Linked DNA regions of Homo sapiens. The protein of the gene in region 2 purifies or fractionates together with the protein of the main gene of each other region. This does not show direct contact. Each region holds a gene or a part of one and is shown on either strand. Other genes may lie near its edges.

What was found.
Region 1: the proteins of CLUH (region 2) and SPAG5 purify together in Homo sapiens (affinity purification with mass spectrometry; 2 studies listed by BioGRID and IntAct, with this or other methods). This does not show direct contact.
Region 3: the proteins of CLUH (region 2) and ZDHHC5 purify together in Homo sapiens (co-immunoprecipitation; one large-scale study listed by IntAct). This does not show direct contact.
Region 4: the proteins of CLUH (region 2) and IFT57 purify together in Homo sapiens (co-immunoprecipitation; one large-scale study listed by IntAct). This does not show direct contact.

What each region holds. Positions count from the first base shown.
Region 1 is NC_000017.11:28,589,026-28,592,856, forward strand, and holds part of SPAG5 (sperm-associated antigen 5), read right to left. Parts: coding exon 2,957-3,831; intron 2,848-2,956; coding exon 2,673-2,847; intron 1-2,672. UniProt on the Homo sapiens protein: Essential component of the mitotic spindle required for normal chromosome segregation and progression into anaphase. Required for chromosome alignment, normal timing of sister chromatid segregation, and maintenance of spindle pole architecture.
Region 2 is NC_000017.11:2,701,407-2,705,569, forward strand, and holds part of CLUH (clustered mitochondria protein homolog), read right to left. Parts: intron 3,159-4,163; coding exon 2,956-3,158; intron 2,084-2,955; coding exon 1,912-2,083; intron 652-1,911; coding exon 508-651; intron 332-507; coding exon 207-331; intron 115-206; coding exon 1-114. UniProt on the Homo sapiens protein: mRNA-binding protein involved in proper cytoplasmic distribution of mitochondria.
Region 3 is NC_000011.10:57,695,283-57,699,113, reverse strand, and holds part of ZDHHC5 (palmitoyltransferase ZDHHC5), read right to left. Parts: intron 3,195-3,831; coding exon 3,071-3,194; intron 2,354-3,070; coding exon 2,241-2,353; intron 556-2,240; coding exon 1-555. UniProt on the Homo sapiens protein: Palmitoyltransferase that catalyzes the addition of palmitate onto various protein substrates such as CTNND2, CD36, GSDMD, NLRP3, NOD1, NOD2, STAT3 and S1PR1 thus plays a role in various biological processes including cell adhesion, inflammation, fatty acid uptake, bacterial sensing or cardiac functions.
Region 4 is NC_000003.12:108,166,925-108,170,755, forward strand, and holds part of IFT57 (intraflagellar transport protein 57 homolog), read right to left. Parts: intron 941-3,831; coding exon 869-940; intron 62-868; coding exon 1-61. UniProt on the Homo sapiens protein: Required for the formation of cilia. Plays an indirect role in sonic hedgehog signaling, cilia being required for all activity of the hedgehog pathway.

The DNA.
Region 1 (3,831 bases), about 26 Mb from region 2:
ACTAAGTACCCTTAAGTTTAAATTGTTGCAAAGGCTGTAATGTCCAGCATATTACCAATATTGACAATTTAAAATAATTTTTTTTTTTTTTGAGACAGAGTCTTACTCTATCCTCCAGGCTGGAGTGCAGTGGCGCGATCTTGGCTCACTGCAACCTCTGCCTCCCGGGTTCAAGCGATTCTCATGCCTCAGCCTCCCAAGTAGCTGGAATTACAGGTGCCCTCCACCACACCCAGCTAATTTTTGTATTTTTAGTAAAGACGGGGTTTCGCCATGTTGGCCAGGCTGGTCTTGAACTCCTGACCTCAGGTGATCCTCCCGCCTCGGCCTCCCAAAGTGTTGGGATTACAGGTATGAGCCACCATGCCCAGCCTAAAATAAAATTATTAGATTACTCTTAAATATATCCAGTGGCATAAATACTACATACACCAAAATGATGAGATACCTAGTTGCTATCTTTTAAAAATACAAGAAAAAGCTCTTCTTAGCAGTCAGAAATTTTATTATGTCATCCCTTTTTCTCTTTGAACATATATTTTTTATTTTTCTCAGAATTTCAGCCTAATGTAATATATTTTTATGCTTTAAAGTATGTTATTAGCTGGGCACAGTGGCTCACACCTGTAATCCCAGTGCTTTGGGAGGCAAAGGCTAGCAGATCACTTGAGCCCAGGGGTTTGAGAACAGCCTGGCCAACATAGCAAAACCCCATCTCTACTAAAAATACAAAAAAATTAGGTAGGTGTGGTGGCATACACCTACAGTCCTAGCTACCCAGGAGGCTGAGGTGGGAGGATCACCTGAGCCAAGGAAGCTGAGGCTTCAGTGAGCCCTGATCGCAACATGGTACTCTAGCCTGGGTGACAGACCAAGAAACTATCTCAAAAAATAAAAATAAAATCTGTTATTAACCATCATCTCTGCAACAACAATGAAAGTTCATCTAAATTTAAATTAAAATTTCCTTTAAATTCCTTTGACCGGAAGGCTTTAAAGTGAAAAAGCTTTCTTTAGGATAGAGAAATCTTTTAATCAGTTGTATATTAGTCACTGTAATATAATTTCTAATAAAATAAACATGCTCGGCAAAATTTAATTGGGAATCACCTATTAATGAAATCGATGGAGATTCCTTCCCCTTATTAGTTCGTATATCTGTGGATTACTATAATTCCAGCAATAAGAAATAGTTCAGCAACAATTCGTGACTCTGTTTTTTGAGGCAGGGTCTGGCTCTGTTGCCCAGGCTGGAGTGCAGTGTCAAGATCTCAGTTCACTGCAGCCTTGAACTCCTAGCCTCAAGTGATCCTCCACCTCAGCCTTCCAAGTAGCTGGGACTACAGGCACACACCACCACACCCAGCTAATTTTTGTATTTTTTTGTAGAGATGAGGTTTCACCATACTTCTCAGGCTGGTCTTGAACTCCTGAGCTCAAGCGATCCTCCCACCTCACCCTCCCAAAGTACTGAGATTACAGGGGTGAGCCACTATGCCAGCTGACTCCTTTCCATTCTGACAGATGTAAACACTGAGAAATCTTCTTCACATAAACAACAGGGGCCAGGCGCAGTGGCTCACGCCTGTAATCCCAGCACTTTGGGAGGCTGAGGCAGGTGGATCATGAGGGCAGGAGTTCGAGACCAGCCTGGCCAACATAGTGAAACCCTGTCTCTACTAAAAATACAAAAATTAGCCGGGTGGGGTGGCATGCGCTTGTAGTCCCAGCTACTCAGGAGGCTGAGGCAGGAGAATCGCTTGAACCTGGGAGGCAGAGGTTGCAGTGAGCCGAGACCAGGCCATTGCACTCCAGCCTGGGTGACAGAGTGAGACTCCGTCTCAAAAAAAAAAAAAAAAAAAAAAAAACTAAAAGTATAATTGGATTGCTTGTAACACAAAGGATAAATGCTTGAGGGGACAGATACAGATACTCCATTTTCCATTTTCCATGATGTGATTATTGACCATCACATGCCTATATCAAAACATCTCATGGACTCCATGAATATATTTACCTAACTCTGTAACCACAAAAATTAAAAATTATTTTAAAAAATGTTTTAGGCTTATTCATAATTTTTCTTAAAATATTAAATATAGTCTACCAATGCAAAAAACGAAGAAAAAGAATACTTGTGGAAGATGATGATCTAAAAACCAATTCCTTTAAAAGTTTCCTTGCTTGCACTCCTTTGGAAAGTTCTGATGTACCCCAGGGGTAGAGTGACTACCCACAGCTTTAAGGGGATTTTCCAGATCCTCAGCTTTTTTGTTTTAAGAGACAGGGTTTCACTGTCTTGCCCATGATCATAGCTCACTGCAGCCTTAGCCTCCTGGGCTCAAATGATCCTCCTGCCTCAGCCTCCTGAGTAGTGAGGCATGCAAAACCATATCCAGCTGATTTTTTAAAAATCTTTTGTAGGGATGGGATCTCGCTGTGTTGCCCAAGCTGGTTTCAAATGCCTGGCCTCAAGCAGTCCTCCCACCTTGGCCTCCCAAAGCAGTGGGATTACAGGCATCAGCCATTGTGACTGCCCAGATTCTCAGCTTTTGCAAATGTTCTAAGTATAAGCCTGTGATAGGAGTCCCCTTTGCCCTCTGGCAGCTTCTCAGCTTAAATTCCAAGGATCCCCACTGGGATCCCTCAAGCTTTGAGAGGAACCTTCTTACCCCACTGTGAGATGTGTCAGTCTGTGTGCTACTGTCCTGGGTTTCTGGGTGAGGGACAGCCAGCTGGCTCTTCCAGTCCCGAAGCTGGCGGGAGAGAACCTCCAGAATGACAAGAGAGCTCAGCAGGTTATCTTCCAAGTCATGTCGAGACAAGGCAGTCAGATCTGGAGGCCGGCTGCAGCAGAAAGAGAAGAACATGACGAAAAGAAAAGGAGGGGAAGGGATGGGAGGGGAAGGTCCAGGGTAATGGAACTCACGAGGTGCAAGGACATAGGGGCGCTTACCCACACAGGAGCTGCTCTGTCTCAGAAGTACTGTGCTTGGTGCCAACCAGGCCTGTCTGGGATGTGTTTGTACTCTTTTCCTGTGGTGCTGAAGGAGTAAACCAAGTCCCCACCGAGCAAGTAGAGAAAGGGGTAGTGCCAATTGCAGCATCCCGAAGCATCGAGGGAAGGGATAAGCTTTGGCGGAGATTTTCCAGCATGACGGAGGTATTTACACCTTTTTCCAGCCAGGCCAGTGGGGACATCCAAGACTCTGTATCAGAGCCAAGAATCCTACCAACATCTTCTACTGCTGGGCCTGGAGCTTCTTGGGATTCCATTTCTACTAGATTTGGTGTCAGGCATGTGGACAGAATATCTTCCACACTTGAGACAAGTGCTTGATCTTCTGTTTCAGACTCCTTAGGATGTGTGGGAAACCTCATTTCTCTTTCCTCCATAGCTCCATGCTCTACAATTTCCTCCTCTGGGTCCACATGATTGACACGGAAATCTGCTGCCAAGGCAGTTGAAGGGGAAAGCCAGAGAACAGAGGAAGGCAAGAAGGCGTTACTTTCAGAAGGTACTAAGTCCTCACGCACAGCCTCAGTTCTACTGCTCAGGCTTTCCTTGGAGCAATGTAGTTGTTCAGAACAGGGATTTGGTGGAGACTCCTCTAAGAGATGGGACGGAGATTCCTGAAAGATAGGTTTCTCAGATACAGCAGCAACTTCTGAAAACCTGTCTCCCATGCAGGGTGCCACCTCCTCTCTCACCAGATCGTCTGTTCTCAAAGGTCCATTTAAAGATATGCTGTTTGTCTCTGCCATGGTATCTAAACGGGCCTCAAATATCATGTCTTGTTGCTGCCCCAGTGGAGATGGTACAAGGACGAT
Region 2 (4,163 bases):
TTGCCGGTCCTCGGCTGTGATCACAAACAGGTACATGAGGTCCCCGTGCATCTTCCGGTTCCCCGGGGGCGGGTTCCATCCGCTCATGGTGAGTACTTTCAGGCACTGCAAGGGCTTCGGGAGCGGCCGAGTCTGAGGGGCCAGGCCTCTGGTGTGGGGCCTCCACCCCGCCAGGGACCCTCTTCCTCCCTCCCCCAGGATCCTACCTTCCAGTCACGGTTTTGGGGCTGCAGGGGACACAGTGGCCGCTCCCGGCTCCCTGGCAGGATGTACTCGGGTGGTGTGCAGTCGATGGGGTCCATCTCCAAGCCCTTCTTCCGCTTCCCGCTGTCTGAGGGACCCGAGGCTGGTGGTCAGCACAGGGCCACCCAGGGCCAGCTGTCTCCCTACCTCCTGATGGCCGTGGTCCGGGTGCCTCAGGCCCAGGCCCCTCGGCCCCTTCTCCAGCCCCCCACCTCCGTGCTCCCCGCCCTTTGGCCCAATCCCCGGCCCCAGTGCCTCCCGCACCTCCCAGGTCGCCGTCGGTGAAGACACTCAGGAAGGACAAGGAGTTGCAGTCAACCCCGTTGAAGGCATCGGATGGGTCCAGGCTCTTGAGCAGGTCTCGGACATGGCGCACGTGGATGCGGGCCTCACGCACCGTGTACGGCTCTGTCAGGAAGGCAGGGAGGGTATGGCGTTACCAGGGCCCTGCACCCTGAACAACCTGCCCAGCACAAAACAGGTTTTGGAGGTGCTAACACAGTGGTTTTAATTTTCAACTTTAGGTTTCCGTTTTCAAATTCCACTGTGAACACATAAGCTGGAGTTCTGGTTTTGACACCACAAACACACACACACACACACTCTGCCTACTGGTGAGCAGGGATCTTTGTTTATAAAGAACTTTCTGCCAAATGCCTCTGAAGCACACACAGGCCTCAGGCGTCCACAAGGCTGCCTGCTTTTGTGCGCCAGTGTGTCGGCTGGGCAGGGCTTTTGGAGCTGTGGGACTTCCACACCACAGCCTTGCCCTGCTCTCCCGAGGCAGCCTCATGTAGGGGTGGCCTGAGGACTTTCCAAGGCCCCCAATGTCAACACTGCCCCTATGTGGTTTCATGGGATTTTAATGGCAGTTCTTTTGGTGGAGGGGAGAGGTTCCGTGATCAACTGTGGGCGCTGTTGAGCTACAGACCTTTTCCGTCACTGCTCTCAACAGGCGGACAGGCCCTGGGGTGGAACCCAAGCAGCTTCTACCCAGAAAACTCGAGGCCACAGACCAACCGGATGGCACCTCCCCGTGCCCGACCTCCCCACTCTAGGGCTAGGAAACGTTTGGGACTTCTCATGGATCTCTACAGAACTGAACTGCGCTGACTTCACGCCCTGGGATGGTACTGCCTGATTTTTTTTTTTTAGAATCACGGCTCTGTTCTTTTGTTTTGTTTTTTTTTTTGAGACGGAGTTTCGTTCTTGTTGCCCATGCTGGAGTGCAGTGGCACGATCCGGGCACACTGCAACCTCTGCCTCCCAGGTTCAAGTGATTCTCCTGCCTCAGCCTCCCGAGTAGCTGGGATTACAGGCACCTGCCACCACGCGCAGCTAACTTTTTGTATTTTTAGTAGAGATGGGGTTTCACCATGTTGGCCAGGCAAGTCTCCAACTCCTGACCTCAGGTGATCCACACGCCTTGGCCTCCCAAAGTGTTGGGATTACAGGCGTGAGCCACCATGCCCAGCCCACGGCTCTGTTCTTTAACCCATGGGCCGTGAAGTTGGCAGATATAGGTGTGCTGGCCTGAGAAGCAGATCTGTGCTCCAATCCTGCCTCCATGAGCTCATCCGTGACACAGGGACCCTGGCATGGATGGTGCTGCCTGCCTCTGCCTCCGTGGGCCCTCCCCCGGGCAGGCTGTCCAACTTCCAGACCAACCTTCCACCACACGCAGCACAGAGCCCTCCTGCAGCCCCTCGACGCTGCGCAGCTCCGAGAAGTGGTCCAGCACGTTGCCATCCAGGTGCAGTGAGAAGCAGGTGCGGTGACACGTGTCCTCCCGGTCCATGAGCACCTGGTGAATCTCCTGCACCATCTCCTGGGGGGACACCTGCAGGGAGAAGGCCCCGCCCACCCCGGTGAGAGAGCACGTAGCGGGGAGAGAAGGCCCCAACCGCCCCGGTGAGAGGCCACGTAGCGGACAGCAAGGACAATATCCCCTTGTCCCCAGCCCAAAGTACCTTGGTCCCCAGAATAAATGCCCCAAATACTCGAATATCGGCTATCCCACTTTCTGGCTTTTAAATCCAGGCCATGTCCACACATGCCATGCCCTGTGTGTGCAGCCTGGAGCCTGGCCCACCGACTCGGCCTGCAGACCCAGAGCAATGCCCGAGCAGAGAAGGGAGATGAAGAACAGCGGGACAGAAGACGGCAGGCTCGCCCCCGGCCTTGCCCAGTGCTAAGGTGCCTGGGGCAAATGGCTTTCCCCTTCCAGAAGGGGTGCTCTGGGGCCCAAGCCTGCGGGTGCCGAGACATACGACGACCCTGTCTCGTTCCCCACTGAGTCACCGGCTTGCAAGACCTCCACGCTGGCTCTGCCCTTGGAGATAACCCAATACTACCCTCCCCTCTGGCAGATGGTAAAATCACGGCCCAGAGAGAGGTGACTTGCCTGAGGGCACAGAGCAAGAGGCTGGGGAGTCCTGGGATGCCAACACTTCCCAGCCACTATCACTCCCCTCCCCACATAGGGCTGGCAGGCCCAGCTGGTTGCTGTCCTCTAGCAATGGGGCAACGACCTGACCCTGGGCTCGATTCCCACGTCCACCACGCTAGCTGAGTGACTCTAGGGAGGGCACGGGATCCTCAGTTTCCTGCCACAAAATGGGGCCGGTAGGAGCACGAGCAAGGCTGAGCTTTCCAGCTCACCCTCCCCAGCAGGCTCAGGCCTGGCCCCCAGCACCCGTTCCTCCATCTTACCTGCAGGGAGAAGGGCTCGATCCCAGGGGCGAGGATCTTCACAGAAAAGCCCGTGTCCTGAATGACAATGACTTCCTGGCCGGTGGTCTCATCTCCCGGGCCGGCCTCGTCAAGCCCATTTTCCCTGGGTGGCTCGGCCGCCGCCGCCTCCTTCTTCAGGCTCTCTGGGCAGTCCCCGTTTAAGAGCATGACTGATGGCAGCTCTGCGGGTGACAAGAACGGGTCAGAATCAGGCAGCCTCGCTGGTCGGCGGGGCTGTCCGCCTGACCCCACACGGGGACACGTGCCTTCTGGAAAGGCATCTGCATGCCCTCGAGAGTCCCAGCCTCACGGTCGCGCCTCGCCCTCCGTGCACCTGCAGGCCACTTCCACACCCAGCCGCCCCTCCCAGCCACTGTTCCCTGGCCCACTGTGGTATGGCTTGCACCTGAACCCATGTCCCAAACCACTCTCCCCAGGGTCACCAAAGCCACCCTTCAAGCCAAGCCCGAGGGTCTCCTCCGGCCCTAACACACCTAGCTTCCCAGCAGCAGTTCCCCTCTTCCTCTCCTCTTCTCTGACCCCACACAGTGCCCTTGCCCCTCCCTCTCCAGCTCCATCCTCTTCCATCCCTCCTGAGCTGTGGTCCTGGGCTGCAGGGGGGCTGCAGGGGAGTGCCTAGGCCCAGCCTCTCCTGTTTCTGACCCCACCCCCTCCCATACACTCCTGCCCCGTGGCTCACACGGCCAATCCTGTCCTCTCTCCAGCCTTTTGGACCAAGGAGACCGCTGCCTCCCAGGCATCAACATGTGGCTGTCCCTGAGGCATCACTGAAGCCTCGTCTTGCAGGGACAGAACTCATCTTCCTCCTCAAACTGGCACCTGCTCTATCTAGTCACCCACCCTAAATCTCCCAACCCACCCACGGGACCCGGCCTCTGCAGCCACTGCCCTAGGGCAGGCATTTCCTCTATTTCAGCAGTGCCACCTGCAACCCTCCTAGGAAGCCCACTGCTTACAAGACCAAGCTTCTCAGGCCAGCGCTCTCAGGCACCCACCTGAAGTCAGCCTCAGCTCCTGCCTGCTCCCTGCTGAGGTCTAAGGACACCACACCATGCAAGCCTGGTACCGCCCACAGCCCTCCCACCGCCCTCCCACCGCTGTGCTTCTGTGTCTGTGCTGCCCCTGACATCCCATTCTGTACAGCAAACACTGACTCACCCTTCAAG
Region 3 (3,831 bases), on a different chromosome or scaffold from region 2:
GCCCGGGAGTGGGGGTGACTGGCGCAGCAACTTCTCTCGTTCCTGGAGAGAGGCCACAATGTGGCGCGACAGATTGTCGTAACGGACTGGTGAGGGCTCTCGGTGTGTTGGGCCAGTTGGCACCAAACGTGGGTGCCTCTCAGCTTCCCGTTGCTGGGCCAGCCTGGCTGACAGGAAGGGAGAGGTATAGCCTAAAGGTGGGTCTGGCTCAGGCCCTGCCTGCACTGACTCAAAATCAGGGCTGTCTGAAGGTGTGAGCAAGCTGTCATAAGATAGGCTTCCATTGCGTGTCTGGTTGGCCAGGCTCTTATAGGAGGTGGAGGTGGTGCCCTCTGAACGAATGGATTGCAACTGGCCCAGCTCAAAGCCTGTGCCCTGGGCTGACTTGAGGCTGGAGGAGCGTGAGCCACTGGATAGTGGATCGAAGTGAAAACTTTTGCCAAAGGTAGGAGAACGGAAGCTCTCTGGTTCCAAGCTGGGCTCTGAGCGGTAGCTGGGGTGACGGCTGCTCTCTGCAATTGAGGTTGGCTCCTTCAAGCTGTCCCCACGACTCAACTGAGGAAGAAAGTAAAGCAGGCTCTTAGTGCTCCTTTTGTGACAGAAGCTAGACCCCAGAGCTCAAGGAGTTGGTCAAAAAGAGAATTATGTGCCAATAATAAGCTTAGAACTCTTACATGCATTATCTGGGTTAATCCCTCAAGAAAAACTGAATTCAGGCAAATATCATCTCCTTTTCAGATACAGAAAGCAAGACGTAGAAAGGCTGAGTATCTCGCCCGTGGGCAGAACTGGGTTATAAACTCGGATCAAGCACTAATCTATTATGCTATATTGCCCAGTCTGATGAAGGACACAGTATCAAGGAGATTGAGTTCCACGAATGCCAACAATTAGTGAAATGTCCTTTCTTCTGCCTTTTCCTTCCCCTAATCTTCTTTTTTTCCCGTAACAGTTGGCATTTGTTTGTGTGTGTGTGTGTGTGTGTGTGTGTGTGTTTTAAGCCCAGGCTGGAGCGTGATGGTGCAATCTTGGCTCACTGCAACCTCAGCCTCCCAGGTTCAAACGATTCTCCTGCCTCAGCTTCCCGAGTAGCTGGGATTACAGGCGCCCCGCCACCACGCCCAGCTAATTTTTGTATTTTTAGTAGAGACAGGGTTTCACCAAGTTGGCCAGGCTGGTCTCAAACTCCTGACCTCGGGTGGTCCGTCTGCCTCAGCCTCCCCAAGTGCTGGGATTACAGGCTTGAGCCACTGTGCTTGGCCTTTTTTTTTTTTTTTTTTTTTTTGAGGTGTAGTCTCACTCTGTCACCAGACTGGAATACAGCAGTGGGAGCTCAGCTCACTGCAGCCTCCACCTCCCAGGTTCAAGCAATTCTCCTCCCAGGTTCAAGCGATTCTCCTTGCCTCAGCCTGCCAAGTAGCTGGGACTACAGATGCATACCACTACCAGCTAATTTTTTTTTTTTTTTTTTGAGATGGACTCTCACTCTGTCACCCAGACTGGAGTGCAGTGGCGCAATCTCGACTCACTGCCACCTCCACCTCCCAGATTCAAGTGATTCTCCTGCCTCAGCCTCCCGAATAGCTGGGATTACAGGTGCCCCCCCACCACGCCCAGATAATTTTTGTATTTATTTATTTATTTTTTTTTTGAGATGCGGTCTCGCTCTGCTGCCCAGGCTGGAGTGCAGTGGCATGATCTCGGCTAACTGCAAGCTCCGCTTCCTGGGTTCACGCCATTCTCCTGGCTCAGCCTCCCGAGTAGCTGGGACTACAGGCACCTGCCACCATGCCTGGCTAATTTTTTTGTATTTTTAGTAGAGACGGGGTTTCACCATGTTAGCCAGGATGGTCTCAATCTCCTGACCTCGTGATTCACCTGCCTCAGCCTCCCAAAGTGCTGGGATTACAGGCGTGAGCCACTGTGCCCGGCAATTTTTGTATTTTTAGTAGAGATGGGGTTTCACCACATTAGCCAGGCTGGTCTCGAACTCCTGACCTTGTGATCCACCAGTCTCGGCCTCCCAAAGTGCTGGGATTACAGGCGTGAGCCACCACGCCTGGCCTAATTTTTGTATTTTTAGTAGAGACGGGGTTTCACCATGTTGGCCAGGACGGTCTCAATCTCTTGACCTTGTGATCCACCCACCTTGGGCTCCCAAAGTGCTGGGATTACAGGAATGAGCCACTGTGCCTGGCCAGTTGGCATGTTATTACCCCACCTCTTAGAGTACTCAGTACCTTGGCGCTGGAGGAATGCGGCATGGCAGCTGACGTACTGCTGCTACTGTAACCCGGCCGATACTTGTACATGGTAGGTGTCGGGGGGCTGTCCTTGGCCAATAAGCTACTATCTGCAAGAAAAAAGGCCAAGGGGGCACTATTTTACAAGCGGTTTTTTGGTTTAAGAGACAGGGTCTCACTCTACTGTCCAAGCTAGAGTGCAGTGGCACGATTATAGCTCACTGGAGCCTTGAACTCCTGGGCTCCCACCTCAGCCTCCTGAGTAGCTGGGACTGCAGGCATATGCCACCATGCCCAGCTAACTTTTTTAAATTTTTTGTAGAGACAGAGTCTTGCTATGTTGCCCAGGGTGGTCTTGAACTCCTGGGCTCAAGCAATCCTCCTGCGTTGGCCTCCCAAAGTGCTGGGATCACAGGTGTGAGCCACTGCGTCTAGTCTATGAGTTGTTCACTTTATCTGCCTAGGGTTCCTTAAGTACAGGGAGAGGACAAGGTAGGAATAGATATACCCTTCGCTGAAATCAAGACTTTTAAAGACTCACACCAGCCCAGAATTCAGGGTGGGTAAATGCACCAAAAAGGTTCTGTGATGTTCTCTGGTCTGCCTAGAGGCTGACCATTTTCCCGGCAAAAGTCCCATTCACTGCCAATAGCTAAATGGCCTCTCTTCTCTTTCAGTTGCAAAGTAGCACAAGTACCAACTGTTGGGTGTTTAAAGTCACAACACGAGTAATATCTCCCAGCCCTTGCCTGTCTTCCACAGCTCATAAGCAACCTTCTCAATCCTGCCCCTAGTTCTAGTATCTTGCAAATCAAGGCAGCCCTTACCCTCATTAGTAGCCAAGCCGAGGTGTGTTCGCAACCCTGTGTAACGGCTCAGGTCTGGCTTAGGAGGAGGTGGAGGTTCAGCATCTGCAGACTGGCTCTCTGTTATCTCCAGGCTTCCCTTAGACTGGATTGATGAAGGGAGGGAAAATCAGATTTAGAAATTGAGCATTATGGCAACTCAAAGTATTAAATTGATATAAGAGGGAGGTATTTGGGAGTCAATTCTCATGTATTTTTTTTTTTTTTTTGAGACAAGGTCTCACTCTGTTGACCAGGCTGGAGTACAGTGGTACGCATGATCATGTTCACTGCAGCCTGCAACTCCTAGGCTCAAGTGCTCTTCCCACCTCAGCCTCCCAAGTAGCTGGGATTACAGGCACATGCCACCACACCCAGTTAATTTATTTTACTTTATTTTGTAGAGATGGGGGTCTCGCCATGTTGCCCAAGCTGGTCTTGAACCCCTGGCCTCAAGCAATATCACCCCACCTTGGCCACCCTAAATGTTGGGATTATAGACATGAGCCACTGCCTATCATATATTTCTCAACTATACTGGAAGACAAGGCACAAGAATCAGTTTGGGTATAGCATTAGATGAAGAAAAGTTGGGTTTTTTTTTTTGAAATGGAGTCTTGCTCAGTCACCCAGGCTGGAGTGCAGTGGCGTGATCACGGCTCATTGCAACCTCTGGCTCGCAGGTTCAAGCGATTCTCATGCCTCAGCCTCCCAAGCAGCTAGGATTACAGGCATGTGCCACC
Region 4 (3,831 bases), on a different chromosome or scaffold from region 2:
CTCGGCTGCTGATCTTTTCCAAAGTCCTAGTAATTTCATTATGGAGTTTGTCCAAAAATCCCTAGAAATTCCATGGAATTTGCAGATAGAAGAACTCACAAACATATTTTTTCAAAAATATTAAAAATGGGTTACATCTCAATCCATTCTACAAATAATCAACTACATGTGCAAAAGAAGACAGCTTGAAATTTTCAATAGCACAAAATATCTGTGATGAGAAATATTTTAACCACACTTAGAAGAGTTTTAGAATAAAAATGCACCTGGCAGTGTTAGTCAATTCATTTGTCATTATACATACCATAAAATTTATGTGACTATAATTAGCATTATATAACATTCACAATCAAAGTAAGGGAATAACGTGAGTTTCCTATAGCACGATTCAAAGGTGACTGAAATATTCCAGTTGGAAATAGATCCCTAAGCCTATAGCTCTAGCCTGGGACACATAACTTTTCAGTCTAGCTTTGCTTCTTTGTGACATTCTCCAAAGTCCTTGTTTCTGGCAGGACAGCAAGCCTGCGGAGGCTGTAAGTTCTAGACCTTGCTGGTCTGGTGTTCTTTCCTCCTTTAAGATTCAGAGAGGAAAGGATGATGAAATGTTTCTCTCTAATATATGTATTATCTATATATTATACATATATATCTTATATATATACATATATATAGCTTTTATTAATATGTAAGTTAGCTTTCTTTAGTTGGTTTAAATGTAAGGTCAGTTGAAATGTAACACGGTACATTCAATTAGTAAGTTCCTTAAAGGCAAAAATTGTGTCTTTTTATTCTTTCATGTTCTCTTATAACAGGTGTTCCACAGATGAGTAAATGTACATTGATTCACGTAAAGTAATTCATATACCTTGGTCTCCTTTAGAGCAGATTCAATTCCACTTCTGTGCTGGTGCATTTGGTCAACATGGATTCTCCAATCCTACAGGCATAGAGCACATAGAAATAATGTAAAAAATACTACATTTCCATCTTTCCCTACTTCTTGTGAAGTTGTAACCTTTAATTACTTTGGTTCCTGCCCTATTTCAGGTGGGATAGCCCTATTTATAGCTTGCAATCAGATTATAAAGAAATATGTGTAGAGCACTTTAGGATAAAAGGTTCTAAATAAATGTAAATTATTTCACGTGTTCACAGAGTGATGTCTGACAATTTAAATTATTCCTGCACTGCTGGTGGTTAATATTTATGACTACCCATTAAAATGAAAAAAAAATTCTAATTACTAGAAAAGAACTACTTGTTTAAGCAGTAACAATTATGTTTGCCAAAAGCAATTCTGAACTCAAATATCATATATCAAAGATTAGTTTGTCCCTTGGAAATGAAAATGGGGCCCTCATCTTCATGAAGCCTTTTGAGTCCCTTTCTTAATAAAGGAAGTTTATAATGATTACTGGAGTTCATGTATTTTAAAATATCATCTATTACTACTAGACTGATCTGAATTAGTGTGCAAATTTGAAATCTACATCAACATTTTAATTTCCTACAAAATATATTAAAAATATTTCAGTTTACTACAAAGTAATAATTTTTTATTTTATTTTACTTTAAGTTCTGGGATACATGTGCAGAATGTGCAAGTTTGTTACATAGGTATACTATGTGCCCTGGTGGTTTACTGCACCCATCAACCTGTCATCTAGGTTTTAAGCCCTGCATGCATTAGGTATTTGTCCTACTGCTCTCCCTCCCCATCCCCCATCCCCCAACAGGCCTGGGTGTGTGATGTTCCCTTCCCTGTGTTCATGTGTTCTCATTGTTCAACTCCCACTTATGAGTGAGAACATGCGGTGTTTGGTTTTCTGTTCCTGTGTTAGTCTGCTGAGAATGATGGCTCCCAGCTTCATCCATGTCCCTGCAAAGGACATGAATTCATTCTTTTTTATGGCTGCATGGTATTCCACAGTGTATATGTGCCATACTTTCTTTATTCAGTCTATCATTGATGGGGATTTGGATTGGTTCCAAGTCTTTGCTATTGTAAATAGTGCTGCAATAAACATATGTGTGCATGTGTCTTTACAGTAAAATGACTTAAAAACCTTTGGGTATACACCCAGTAATGGGATTGCTGGGTCAAATGGTATTTCTGATTCTAGATCCTTGAAGAATTGCCACATTGTCTTCCACAATGGTTGAACTAATTTACACTCCCACCAACAGTGTAAAAGTGTTCCTATTCTCCACATCCTCACTAGCAGCTGTTGTTTCCAGACTTTTTTGATCACCACTCTAACTGGCATGAGATGGTATCTCATTGTGGTTTTGATTTGCATTGTTCTAATTAACAGTGGTGATGAGCTTTTTATCATATGTTTTTTGGCCACATAAATGTCTTCTTCTGAGAAGCGTCTGTTCATATCCTTTGCCCACTTTTTGATGGGTTTTTTTTTTCTTGTAATTTGTCTAAGTTCCTTTAGATTCTGGATACTAGACTTTTGTCAGATGGATAGATTGCAAAAATTTTCTCCCATTCTCTAGGCTGCCTGTTCACTTGGATGATAGTTTCTTTTGCTGTGCAGAAGCTCTTTAGTTTAATTAGAGGCCATTTGTCAATTTTGACTTTTGTTGCCATTGCTTTTGGTGTTTTAGTCATGAAGTCTTTGCCCATGCCTATATCCTGAATGGTATTGCCTAGGTTTTCCTCTCAGGTTTTTATGGTTTTAGGTTTTACATTTAAGTCTTTAGTCCATCTTGAGCTAATTTTTGTATAAGGTGTAAGGAAGGGGTACAGTTTCTGTTTTCTGTATATGGCTAGCCAGTTTTATCCCTGATGAACATCAATGTGAAAACCCTCAATAAAATACTGGCAAACCAAATCCAGCAGCACATCAAAAAGCTTATCCACCATGATCAAGTCAGTTTCAGCCCCAGGATGCAGGCTGGTTCAACATACACAAATCAATAAATGTAATCCATCACATAAACAGAACCAGTGACAAAAACCACATGATTATCCCAATAGATGCAGAAAAGGCCTTTGATAAAGTTCAACACTCCTTCATGCTAAAAACTCTCAATAAACTTGGTATTGATGGAACATATCTCAAAATAATAAGAGCTATTTATGACAAACCCATAGCCAATATCATACTGAATGGGCAAAAGCTGGAAGCATTCCCTTTGAAAACCGGAAAAAGACAAGCATGCCCTCTCACCCCACTCCTATTCAACATAGTATTGGAAGTTCTAGCCTGGGCAATCAGGCAATAGAAAGAAATAAAGGGTATTCAAATAGGAACTGAGGAAGTCAAATTGTCTCTGTTTGCAGATAACATAATTGCATATTTAGAAAACCCCTATGTCTCGGCCCCAAAACTCCTTAAGCTAATAAGCAACTTCAGCAAAGTCTCAGGATACAAAATCAATGTGCAAAAATCACAAGCATTCCTATATGCCAATAATAGACAAGTAGAGAGCTAAATCATGAGTGAACTTCTATTCACAATTGCTACAAATAAAATAAAATATCTAGGAATACAACTTACAAGGGATGTGAAGGACCTCTTCAAGGAGAACTAAAAACCACTGCTCAAGGAAGTAAGAAAGGCCACAAACAAGTGGAAAAACATTCCATGCTCATGGATAGGAAGAATCAATATCATGAAAATGGCCATACTGCCCAAAGTAATTTATAGATTCAATGCTTTTCCCATCAAGCTACCATTGACTTTCTACCCAGATTAGAAAAAACTACTTTAAATTTCATGTGGAACCAAAAAAAAAAACCCCATACAGCCAAAAAAATCCTAAGCAAAAACAACAAAGCTGGAGGCATCATGCTACTTGACTTCAAACTATGCT